Homo sapiens: one gene and its partners. The protein of the gene in region 3 purifies or fractionates together with the protein of the main gene of each other region. This does not show direct contact. Each region holds a gene or a part of one and is shown on either strand. Other genes may lie near its edges. The genes, in order: SYNRG, RACGAP1 and PIN4.

Region 1 (3,654 bases), on a different chromosome or scaffold from region 3:
AGAGAAATTTCTAGGAATAGAACTGAGACTTGGCCGGATGTGGTGGCTCATGCCTGTAATCCCAGTGCTTTGGGAGGCCAAGGCAGGAGAATCGCTTAAGCCGAGGAATTTGATACCAGCCTGGGCAACATAGGGAGACCCTGTCTCTACAGAATATTTAAAAATTAGCCAGGCGTGGTGGTATGCACCTGTGGTCCCAGCTACCTGGGAAGCTGAGGTGGGAGGAATGCTTGAGCCTAGGTGGCTGAGGCTACAGTAAGCTATGACTGTGCCACTTATACTCCAGCCTGGACGACAGAGCAAGAGACTCCATCTCAAAAATAAAAATAAAAAACCAAACAAAATCCTGAGACTTAAATACTTAAGCTGAATCAGACTATGTGATCTCTTTTAATTTCAAAATTATATATTTATAAAACATGATTATAATAAGATACTATCATATAGATAAAAAATAGCAGTGTAAAACAACTAAAGATGTTTGTTTATTCATTCAACAAACATCTACAGATAACCTATTGTGCTGAATCAACATGCTGGGTGCTACAAATAATGCTAGATGAGCATTAGACAGACATGGCACTAACAATCTAGCAGAAGACTAGATAGAAGGAGAAAGACATCATTAAGTGAATTACAGCTCGTTTCATTTTTATCACCTGTTCTTTAACATTCTTGTCCTAAAAGTCTTTCACCTCTGAGGTTAAACAATCTATGAACATAATGTCTATGTAAGTTTGGGAGAAACGAGGAGTGATCCTTATTACTCCCAAAATTATATAATTTTTGAGAAAATTTAAGAGTAGCTGTCATATAGGACATACAGGTTTAAGAGTGCAGAAAATTTTACTCTATTCAGCAGCAACAGAACTTATTTTCTATTTACTTATTTAATTCCCAGATTCAGAAACACAAGAGTGAAAAATAAAAGTTCAAAACTTAAGCTCTCACATACCTTGAGGGGGTCTTATCCCACCTGCAACAGGAAACATGAAGCTGAAAACAGAATAAAAATACATTATAATCTTCGTATGTACAAAGATTTCAAATAACACGTGTACTTTTTTATATGGATAAAAGACTTGTAGATGGGACCTGGTGTTTGTTCTGCACCACAATACTGAATTGCCCAACATCAGTACACTGAGCATCCATAGGATGCATGTCAGCATGCTACTGCAGACGGAAACTTGTTGAAACAAAAGACAGAAGACCCTGAAATTAGTCCTGGCTCTGTCACTTCGTGTCCTCTCTGGATTCCAGTTTCCCCATCTATAAAATGAGAGAGTTTAGATTCAATTCAGTCAACATCTATTGAGTGTCAACTACATGAAATGATGGAATCTTATAATCAAAAATACACATATGCAGGCAAATAACTATACCACAGGGTAAATGTGCTAACTGCTATAAGCGAGGTCCAAATTATTAATAGAGATGAGAAGAAAAAGATGAATTTTAATGGGCTATATCTTGAGAAGTTTTATGGAAGTAGCTCTGGAGCTGAATCTTGAAGGAAAATAGAAGCACACTATATATTTTGAGCAAAAGCTCTGAGGCAGAGATGCAGGGATGTTTGGAGAAATGAATGTAGGTTAAATGTTAACTATATGATTTAAAAGCAAGCAGATTGTACAGGGCCTTTATTTTTATTTTTATTTATTTATTTATTTTTGTGAGATGGAGTTTCGCTCTTGTTGCCCAGGCTTGAGTGCAATGGCGCGATCTTGGCTCACTGCAGCCTCCACCTCCTGTGTTCAAGCAATTCTCCTGCCTCAGCCTCCTGAGTAGCTGGGATTACAGGCACCCGCCACCACGACTGGCTAATTTTTTGTATTTTTAGTAGAGGCAGGGTTTCACCATGTTGGCCAGGCTGGTCTCAAACTCCTGACCTCAGGTGATCCACCCGCCTCGGCCTCCCAAAGTGCTGGGATTACAGGTGTGAGCCACCGCACCTGGTCAAGGGCCTTTAAAATGTTTCATTTTATTTTGAATATTATATGAAGTTGTCAGAGGTTTTATTGTTATTGTGGTAACATATACATAACATAAAATTCTATCATTTTTAACCATTTTTAAGTGTATAATTCCATGGCATAATTAAGGACATTCACAATATTGTCAACCATTACCACTATCCATTTCCAGAACCTTTCCATCATCCCAAACAGAAACTCTGTACCCATTAAACAATAAGTCCTCATTTTAGAGCGTAAGAAAGCTCTCTTCTAAGGTTTTTTTTAAGCTGACAACTTTATTTTTATTTTATTTTTTTGAGACGGAGTTTGCTCTTGTCGTCCAGGTTGGAGTGTGATGGCATGATCTCAGCTCACTGCAACCTCCGCCTGCCAGGCTCAAGTGATTCTACTGCCTCAGCCTCCTATGTAGCTGGGACTACAGGCGAGCACTACCAAACCTGGCTAATTATTGTATTTTCAGTAGAGACAGGGTTTCACCATGATGGCCAGGCTGGTCTTGAACTCCTGGCCTCATGATCTGCCTGCCTTGGCCTCCCAAAGTGCTGGGGTTACAGACATGAGCTACGGCACTTGGCCTAGGCTCTTTTGAATAAAGGTTAAGCCTGGGCGACAGAGTGAGATTCCGTCTCAAATAAATAAATAAATAAAGGTTAAAAAGTTAAGCTCTGGCCAGGCGCAGTGGCTCACGTCTGTAATCCCAGCACTTTGGGAGGCCAAGGTAGGTGGATCACCTGAGGTTGGGAGTTCCAGACCAGCCTGACCAACATGGAGAAACCCCATCTCTACTAAAAATACAAAATTAGCTGGGCATGGTGGTGCATGCCTGCAATTCCAGCTACTCAGGAGGCTGTGAGGCAGGAGAATCACTTGAACCCAGGAGGCGGAGGTTGCAGTGAGCCAAGATCGCGCCATTGCACTTCAGCCTGGGCAACAAGAGTGAAACTCCGTTTCAAAAAAAAAAAAAAATTAAGCTCTGGTTGTAGATGAAATAGCCAAGGGCATATATCCAGTAACAAAACAACTAAGGACAAACTTGGAGAATTCTTGCAGTGAAAACTGAGTAGGAAATGGTCATTGAAAACCAAGGGAGTGCTTATAACTGAGAGTTATAACTGAAGAAGGACCACATTTCAACAAGGAAGTAGTTACCAGTGTCTAATGCTGTAGAATAGCGGTGAGAATGAAGATTAAAAAATAAATCACTGCTTTCAAAAATGGTGATTGTTAAGTGAGTTAGTTTCAACAAAGAAAGGGGAAGAGACCCTAGGGAGAAAAAATTTAAGAGACAAAATACATACCTAGTGATTTATAAGGTTTTTAAGGAAATGGGATTAACACGCGAAGGAGCAAAAGGGGGCCAGATGAGGTGGTGCATGCCTGTAATCCCAGCACTTTGGGAGGCCAAGGCAGGCGGATCACTTGAGGCCAGGAGTTCAAGACCAGCCTGGTCAACATGACAAAACCCCATCTTTACTAAAAATACAAAAATTAGCCAGGCGTGGTGGCATGTGCCTGTAATCCCAGCTATCCAGTAGGCTGAGACATGAGCATTGCTTGAACCCAGGAGGCGGAGGTTGCAGTGAGCTGAGATTGCCCCACTGCACTCCAGCCTGAGCAGACAGAATGACAGAAGGAGACTCTGTCTCAAAACAAAACAAAACAAAACAAAGTAGCA
Region 2 (3,654 bases), on a different chromosome or scaffold from region 3:
CTCAGTCAGACCTCTTTGCTCAATCTCATTTACACAATGCACAACAATGGAGGGGATCATTGGAGAAGTCTGGGACACAAAGTCTGCCAGCATTCCCTGGAAAAAAAAAAGAGCTTTAAATTATTATTTACGCCATGTAGACCAACAGATGAAGACCACATGCGAAGAACCACCTCCAATCTTATTCTCAAACTGGGACATCATGTCTACTTTTACATTCCTATTCCCAAAGCATATATTAAAACAGAGACTCTCAATTATTTTTCCTACCTCCACACCAGGACTGATTTATTATCATATATACCACACTTTTTCTTTTTCATATATACACCACACTGTTATGTGAACAAGGAATAAGACCACCAGCTATAATTACCTCCTTCTCATCCACTCAAGGACAGCAGAAAACAAGCAATAATGAGGTTACAGGTATAGCCTTTAATATAAAATAATTTATTACTCTAAACAGATTTTTTTTTCTAACAGAAGAAAGCTGGAACAAGAGAAAAAAATTGTGTATACTTTCATTATTCTCAGTAAAAAAAATTATTTAACATATCTTATCAGTTGATTATGACACAAACCTACCTGTAGGGGAGAACTCCATGGTTCTATATTAGAGTACAGAACATGTGTAAAAAAAATGTACAGGCGGCCAGGTGCGGTAGCTCACGCCTGTAATCCCAGCACTGTAGGAGGCCGAGGTGGGCGGATCACCTGAGGTCAGGAGTTCGAGACCTGCCTGACTAACATGGAGAAACCCTGTCTCTACTAAAAATACAAAATTAGCCAGGCATGGTGGCGCATGCCTGTAATCCCAGCTATGAGGGAGGCTGAGGCAGGAGAATCGCTTGAACCCAGGAGGTGGAGGTTGTGGTGAGTCGAGATTGCGCCATTGCACTCCAGCCTGGGCAACAAGAACAAAACTCCCTCTCAAAAACAAAACAAAACAAAACAAAACAAAACAAAATGTACAGGCATGGATAAGAACTTGTAAGATCAGGGGAAAATAATATTTGATTTGCTGAAGAGTAGGTAGGAAGATAGTCATTTTGATTCTTGCTAATGTTACTTACATAATAATTTTTTTTTTTTTTGAGATAGGGTCTTGCTCTATTCCCCAGGCTGGAGTGCAGTGGTGTGATCACAGCTCACTGCAGTTTCAACCTCCCCACCTCAAGCAATAGTCCAACCTAGCCTCCTGAGGAGCTACAAACACAGGCGCACACCACTAACCTGGCTAACTTATTTATTTATTCTTTGTAGAGATGGAGTCTTGCTTTGTTGTCCAGGCTGGTCTCAAACTCTTGGGCTCAAGTGATTTTCCTGCCTCAGCCTCCCAAAGTGCTGGGATTACAGGCATGAGCTACCACACTCAGCAATAAATAATTTCTTAATGGATTTAATCAGTTTGGATTAAACTGGTTAAATATTTGGAAATAAGCAACTTCATTTTGATAACCTATTATGAAGTATGTCTAACATAAGAGCAAGAATAAAAGATAATTTTATCACAGATAAAATTATATGATAGCTGAGATTTGCTTCCAAGTAATTCATTGGACAGAGTCAGGAGGAGGCAACGACAGTATTGATAAATCAAGAACAGACATAAAGGCTGGGTGCCATGGCTCACACCTAGAATCCCAACACTTTAGGAGGCCGAGGCAGGCGGATCACTTGAGGTCAGGAGTTCAAGACCAGCCTGGCCAACATGGCAAAACCCCGTCTCTACTAAAAATACAAAAAAATTAGTTGAGCATGGTGGCACATGGCTGTAGTCCCAGCAACTTGGGAGGCTGAGGCATGAGAATCACTTGAGCCCAGGAGACAGAGGCTGCAGTGAGCCAAAGTTGCAACACTGCAATCCAGCCTGGACAACAGGGAAACTCTGTCTCAAAAAAAAGAGAGACATTAAAAAAAGAATGGACATGACCAGGCGCGGTGGCTCACGCCTGTAGTCTCAGCACTTTGAGAGGCTGAGGTGGGCGGATCACTTGAGGTCAGGAGCTTGAGACCACCCTGGCCAACATGATGAAACCCCATCTCTACTAAAAAATACAACCAAAAAAAATTAGCCGGGCATGGTGGTGGTACATGCCTGTAATTCCAGGTACTTGGGAGGCTGAGGCAAGAAAATCGCTTGAGCCCAGGGGGGCGGAGGTTGCAGTGAGCTGACATCCTGCCAGTGCACTCCAGCCTAGGCAATAGAGCTAAAAAAAAAAAAAAAAAAAAAAAAAAAAAAAAAAAAAAAATGGACACAAGTTAGTAATCATGGAAGTTAAGTGATAAGAACCAGGGGTTAGTTATACTAATTTCTCTAGTTTTATATATGTCTGAAATTTTCCAAAATGGGATGAAGGGGAGGAAGGAAGGAAGAAGAGGCAAGGAGAAGCAGGGAAGAGCAAGAAGGAAAAAGGGGCGGGGAAAGAAGTTTGGTTTAGAAAGGTATTAGACAGACAAACCCAAACAGGACTCTTCTACAAGTAAGTATCTTACAATTCTAGTCATTATTTGTGGAAAGAAATATATTTGAGATGATTAATTTTAGAACAAAAACTGACACTAAGCCTTTGAAAGGCGAATAAAGAGGCCATAAAACAATGACGGCTTGCATAAGTCATACCTCTCCAATCTTGACAGGTGTTCCTATCAGGGTAGGAATGCAGGGAAGGGGACAGCGGTCCCGACATTCTGGATGAGAGACCACACGACAGTCTCGACACTTCAGAGATAATTTGCCAAATTTTATCCGCTTTCCACATGGAACACAGGATTCAGGTTTAATAACCTGGGATAAAACAGGGCAGAAGGAACAGAGTGATATGAATTAGAAAATTATCATCATAATCAACTAACTTTTTTTTTTTTTTTTTTTTGAGACCGAATCTCACTCTCTCGCCTGGGCTGGAGTGCAGTGGTGTGATTTCAGCTCACTGCAACCTCTGCCTCCCAGGTTCAAGCGATTCTCCTGTCTCAGCCTCCCGAGTAACTGGGATTACAGGTGCCCACCACTACGCCCAGCTAATTTTTCGTATTTTTAGTAGAGACAGGGTTTCACCATGTTGGCCAGGCTGGTCTCGAACTCCTGACCTTGTGATTCACCCACCTCGACCTCCCAAAGTGCTGGGATTACAGGCGTGAGCCACTGGGCCTGGCCTTTTTTTGTCTTTTTTTGAGACAGAGTTTCGCTCTTGTTGCCCAGGCTGGAGTGCAATGGCGTGGTAGAGGTTGGCTCACTGCAACCTCCACCTCCCGGGTTCAAGCGATTCTCCTGCCTCAGCCTCCCAAGTAGCTGGGATTACAGGCATGCGCCACCACGCCCGGCTAATTTTTATATTGTTAGTAGAGACGGGGTTTCTCCATGTTGGTCAGGCTGGTCTCGAACTCCCGACCTCAGGTGATCTGCCTGCGTCAGTCTCCCTAAGTGCTGGGATTACAGGCGTGAGCCACTGTGCCCAGCCATAATCAACTAACATTTATTGAGCACTTAGTATGTGCCAAAAAATTTTCTAAGCCCTTTAGACATATTTACATATGTAATTCTCACAGTAATCCCATAAAATAGGTTTTGTTTTCTTCATTTTAAGATGAGGAAACAGAAGCAAAGAGAGTTTAAGTAACTTGTTTAAGGTCATCCCACTGGAAGGCAGC
Region 3 (3,654 bases):
AACTCCAAGGCTCAAGTGATCCTCCCACCTTGGCCTCCTAAAATGCTGGGATGATAGGCCTGAGCCACTGTGCCCAGATGAGGTCACTGTATTGATGCTGAACTTAGTGCTGACACCCGATTGGCATAGGACACTACAGCCCAGAACTCCTGGGCTCAAGTGATCCTCCTGCCTCAGCCTCCCAAGTAGCTAAGACTACAGGCGCACACCACTGGGCCCAGCCATAGTTTCATCTTATATCTATTTGAACTTCTCTGTATACACTGGCATATCTGCTCCGTGGGGAAAATCTCATGGAGGCATAACCTACTGAGGTGCTCAGAAACTCTTCTCAAGTGGGAAAGTCAGGTATCTAGGTAAAGTTCCCATTATATAAGTGGGTATAATATCAAATGCAGCTGAGGGAGAGAAGGCAGTGTGTTAAAATAATCTGTTAAGAATCACATAGCTGTGTTGGCAAAGTTTTATTTTTGAAGCAGTATAGTATTTATATTAGTAATCTTTATACTTTTTTATATGTCATAAATATGGCATTTTAAATTTTAAAAATTTAGATGCACAGAACATTGGCCCTGGAAAGGACAGTCTTAATGTAACCCATACACTGAAGATGAGGGAATGACATTTTTATGCTGACATCCCTCCCTTTAACCAGCACTCGGTTAGTCTAGTACAAAACAACTCATGGAACAACTGAGTGCTTTTTTCCTCCAATAAACATTTATTTAAAAAGAAAGGAGTTAACACTGAAAGGCATAACGTGCCACGTACTATGTTAAGACAGTGGAGCTAATACCACCTGTCCTGGAAGATCAGAGTTGACTAACATGTAAAACAAATGTTGTCTAGGAACTTATTTTATGATTCTCACACACTAATCTATTTGATGCCCAATATTTTCAGTTGTGTGAATAGTGTGAGTTGATATCTGCTTCCCCTGAAGATGGTTTCTGAATTAATTTATGGGACAGACTGAGAGTCAGATATAGTTCTGGGAGGAAAGAGAATACAGGTTAAAGGGAGTCTGCTTGACTTCTCTTTGAGAAAGACTGACTGAATACCTACTACAGTTGACATTCACTTAGCCCCACCCTCTCTTACACCTACAAACCCATACTTAGAGCTTTCACAGAATACAAGGAGCATCCAATATCTTTTCTTTTTAAAAATTTTTGTATTTCCTTGCAGCTCCAGCTCAAAAGAATATGTAATACCTTTTAAAGAAACAAAATGTATAAAACTTATTCAGTCTTTCATATGATTTTATTTTCTTCCTTCGACCATAATAATATGATATCCAAATTTTGTCTTAACCGGTGGGTCTGTAAACACAGGCTTATCCATCCCACTTACAGGCAAGGCAAATGCTGCTTCTTGAAATGGTCCCACCATGGACCCTCTGGTCATCCAACCCAAGTCACCCTGAAAAACCCAAAAGATAAGTGATATCAAGTGGCCCAGAAGAGGGAACAGTTCTACTGTAGCTTGAGAGAATTTCCCAACATTTTGCTAAGGTTACGAGGTATATTCCTAAGAGCAATACAGGAATAGGCTCAATAAGGACAAATAGGTAGAAGAAGTCTAACTAGACTGAACACATAAGTACTCTCAACACTGCTGGACTTTGAAGTTAGCCGTGCAAGTTTGGTCATGCATAGGTTTTGACATAGATGACCCTTATTCTACTATTTACAAGTTGGACATTTCTGCTTTTGAGATCTTTAAACCAAAATATCGCTACAACCAATGGTTGAACAAAGGAATGATCCCTACTTCTGTGTTTCTTCTGTGGAGGATGGAGAATTTTTATCTTATTTTATTATTTGTCATTTTTACTTTGCTTTCTTACCTTGAGAGAAAATTATAAATAATAAGAGCAACATACCCCTTGCCTGGCTTTATCTTCACTATACTGTGCGGCCACTTCATTGAATCTCATCCCAGACTTTAACTTTTCCATGGCTTCCATGATTTTGCCATGTTTTTCACATAGAATGTGTCTGACCTGCAAGGAAAAAGTACATTCATGTAATACTTGGAGACCCAAATGACTCCTTAAAGTACAGTGGTTACATTTGGATTACCCCCACCAGTTAAAAAAAAAACACATTAGTTCATAGCAAGTAAAAATCCTGGAAGTTTGCCCAGGACAACAACCACAATCCCATTCCCCATATTAAGACAATGTCTCAGAGTCCTGATTTAGATGGAAAATAGGCACCTGGCTGTGGGAAGCTCCGCCTTTTTTTTTTTTTTGAGAAGGAGTCTTGCTCTGTCACCTAGGCTGAAGTGCAGTGGTGTGATCTCGGCTCACTGCAACCTCTGCCTCCCGGGTTCAAGCAATTCTCCTGTCTCAGCCTCCTGAATAGCTGGGTTTACAGCTATGTGCCATCACACCTGGCTAATTTTTGTATTTTTAGTAGAGATGGGGTTTCTCCATGTTGGCCAGGCTGGTCTTGAACTCCTGACCTCGTGATCCACCCGCCTTGGCCTCCCAAAGTGCTGGGATTACAGGCGTGAGCCGCCGCTCACGGCCGGGAAGCTCCCATCTTTTACCATATACCTTCATGCTAACAGGAGGAGGAAACACGATACGGGTTGAGAGCTGTGGTCCTAGAATCAAATCCCAACTCTGCTGTATGAACTTAGGCTTTATTTATTTATTTATTTAGAGACGGAGTCTCACTCTGTCTCCCAGGCTGGAGTGCAGTGGTGTGCTCTCAGCTCACTGCAACCTCTGCCTCCCGGGTTCAAGCAATTCTCTTGCCTTAGCCTCCCGAGTAGCTGGGATTACAGGCACCCATTACCACGCCCAGCTAATTTTTGTATTTTTAGTAGAGATGGTGTTTCACCACGTTGGCCAGGCCGGTCTTGAACCCCTGACCTCAAGTGATCTGCCCGCCTCGGCCTCCCAAAGTGCTAGGATTACAGGCGTCAGCCACCATGCCTGGCTGAACTTACGCATGTTTTTAAACCTCCAAGTGTTTCTCCATTTGTACATCAAGATGCAATGATAACGGGACCTATGTGTTCTCATAGGATTGTGAAGATTGAGATAATGCAGCTACCATTGACCAACGGCTAGCTATTATTTCATCAGAGTGAGGATAAGAAAAAACCTGCTAGAAAGTATTTCTATCTTTTTTTTTGAGACAGAGTCTCCGTCTGTTGCCCAGGCTGGAGTGCAGTGGCCCGATCTTGGCTCACTGCAACCTCCACCCACGGGTTCAAGCAATTCTCCTGCCTCAGCCTCCCAAGTAGCTGGGACTATAGGTGCGCACCACCACGCCCAGCTAACTTTTTGTATTTTTAGTAGAGATGGGTTTCACTGTGTTGGCCAGGCTGGTCTCAAATTCCTGGCCTAAAGTGATCTGCCCACCTCAGCTCCCAAAGTGCTGGGATTACAGGTGTCAGCACACCGTGCCTGGCCAGGAAGTATTTCTTACTAAAAGAGACCCAATGTATAAGCCTCCCCACAATTCCACACTTTGAAAAGGTATCATAGGTTGAATATTAAGAACGCCCAACCCTACTGAAGTATTCAAATTTGACCTATGTTTACATAAAGCCATGGATTTAAAAAAACACTATTATCCTTGAAAATGATTTTGTCAAGATAGCTGTTTCGCAGGATTTCTCATTTCACATTCAAAT

Evidence for each region.
Region 1: the proteins of PIN4 (region 3) and SYNRG purify together in Homo sapiens (affinity purification with mass spectrometry; one large-scale study listed by BioGRID and IntAct). This does not show direct contact.
Region 2: the proteins of PIN4 (region 3) and RACGAP1 purify together in Homo sapiens (affinity purification with mass spectrometry; one large-scale study listed by BioGRID and IntAct). This does not show direct contact.

What each region holds. Positions count from the first base shown.
Region 1 is NC_000017.11:37,599,408-37,603,061, forward strand, and holds part of SYNRG (synergin gamma), read right to left. Parts: intron 997-3,654; coding exon 956-996; intron 1-955. UniProt on the Homo sapiens protein: Plays a role in endocytosis and/or membrane trafficking at the trans-Golgi network (TGN). May act by linking the adapter protein complex AP-1 to other proteins. Component of clathrin-coated vesicles.
Region 2 is NC_000012.12:49,994,414-49,998,067, forward strand, and holds part of RACGAP1 (rac GTPase-activating protein 1), read right to left. Parts: intron 2,792-3,654; coding exon 2,627-2,791; intron 97-2,626; coding exon 1-96.
Region 3 is NC_000023.11:72,195,136-72,198,789, reverse strand, and holds the end of PIN4 (peptidyl-prolyl cis-trans isomerase NIMA-interacting 4), read right to left. Parts: intron 2,006-3,654; coding exon 1,886-2,005; intron 1,423-1,885; coding exon 1,264-1,422; 3' UTR 450-1,263; downstream 1-449.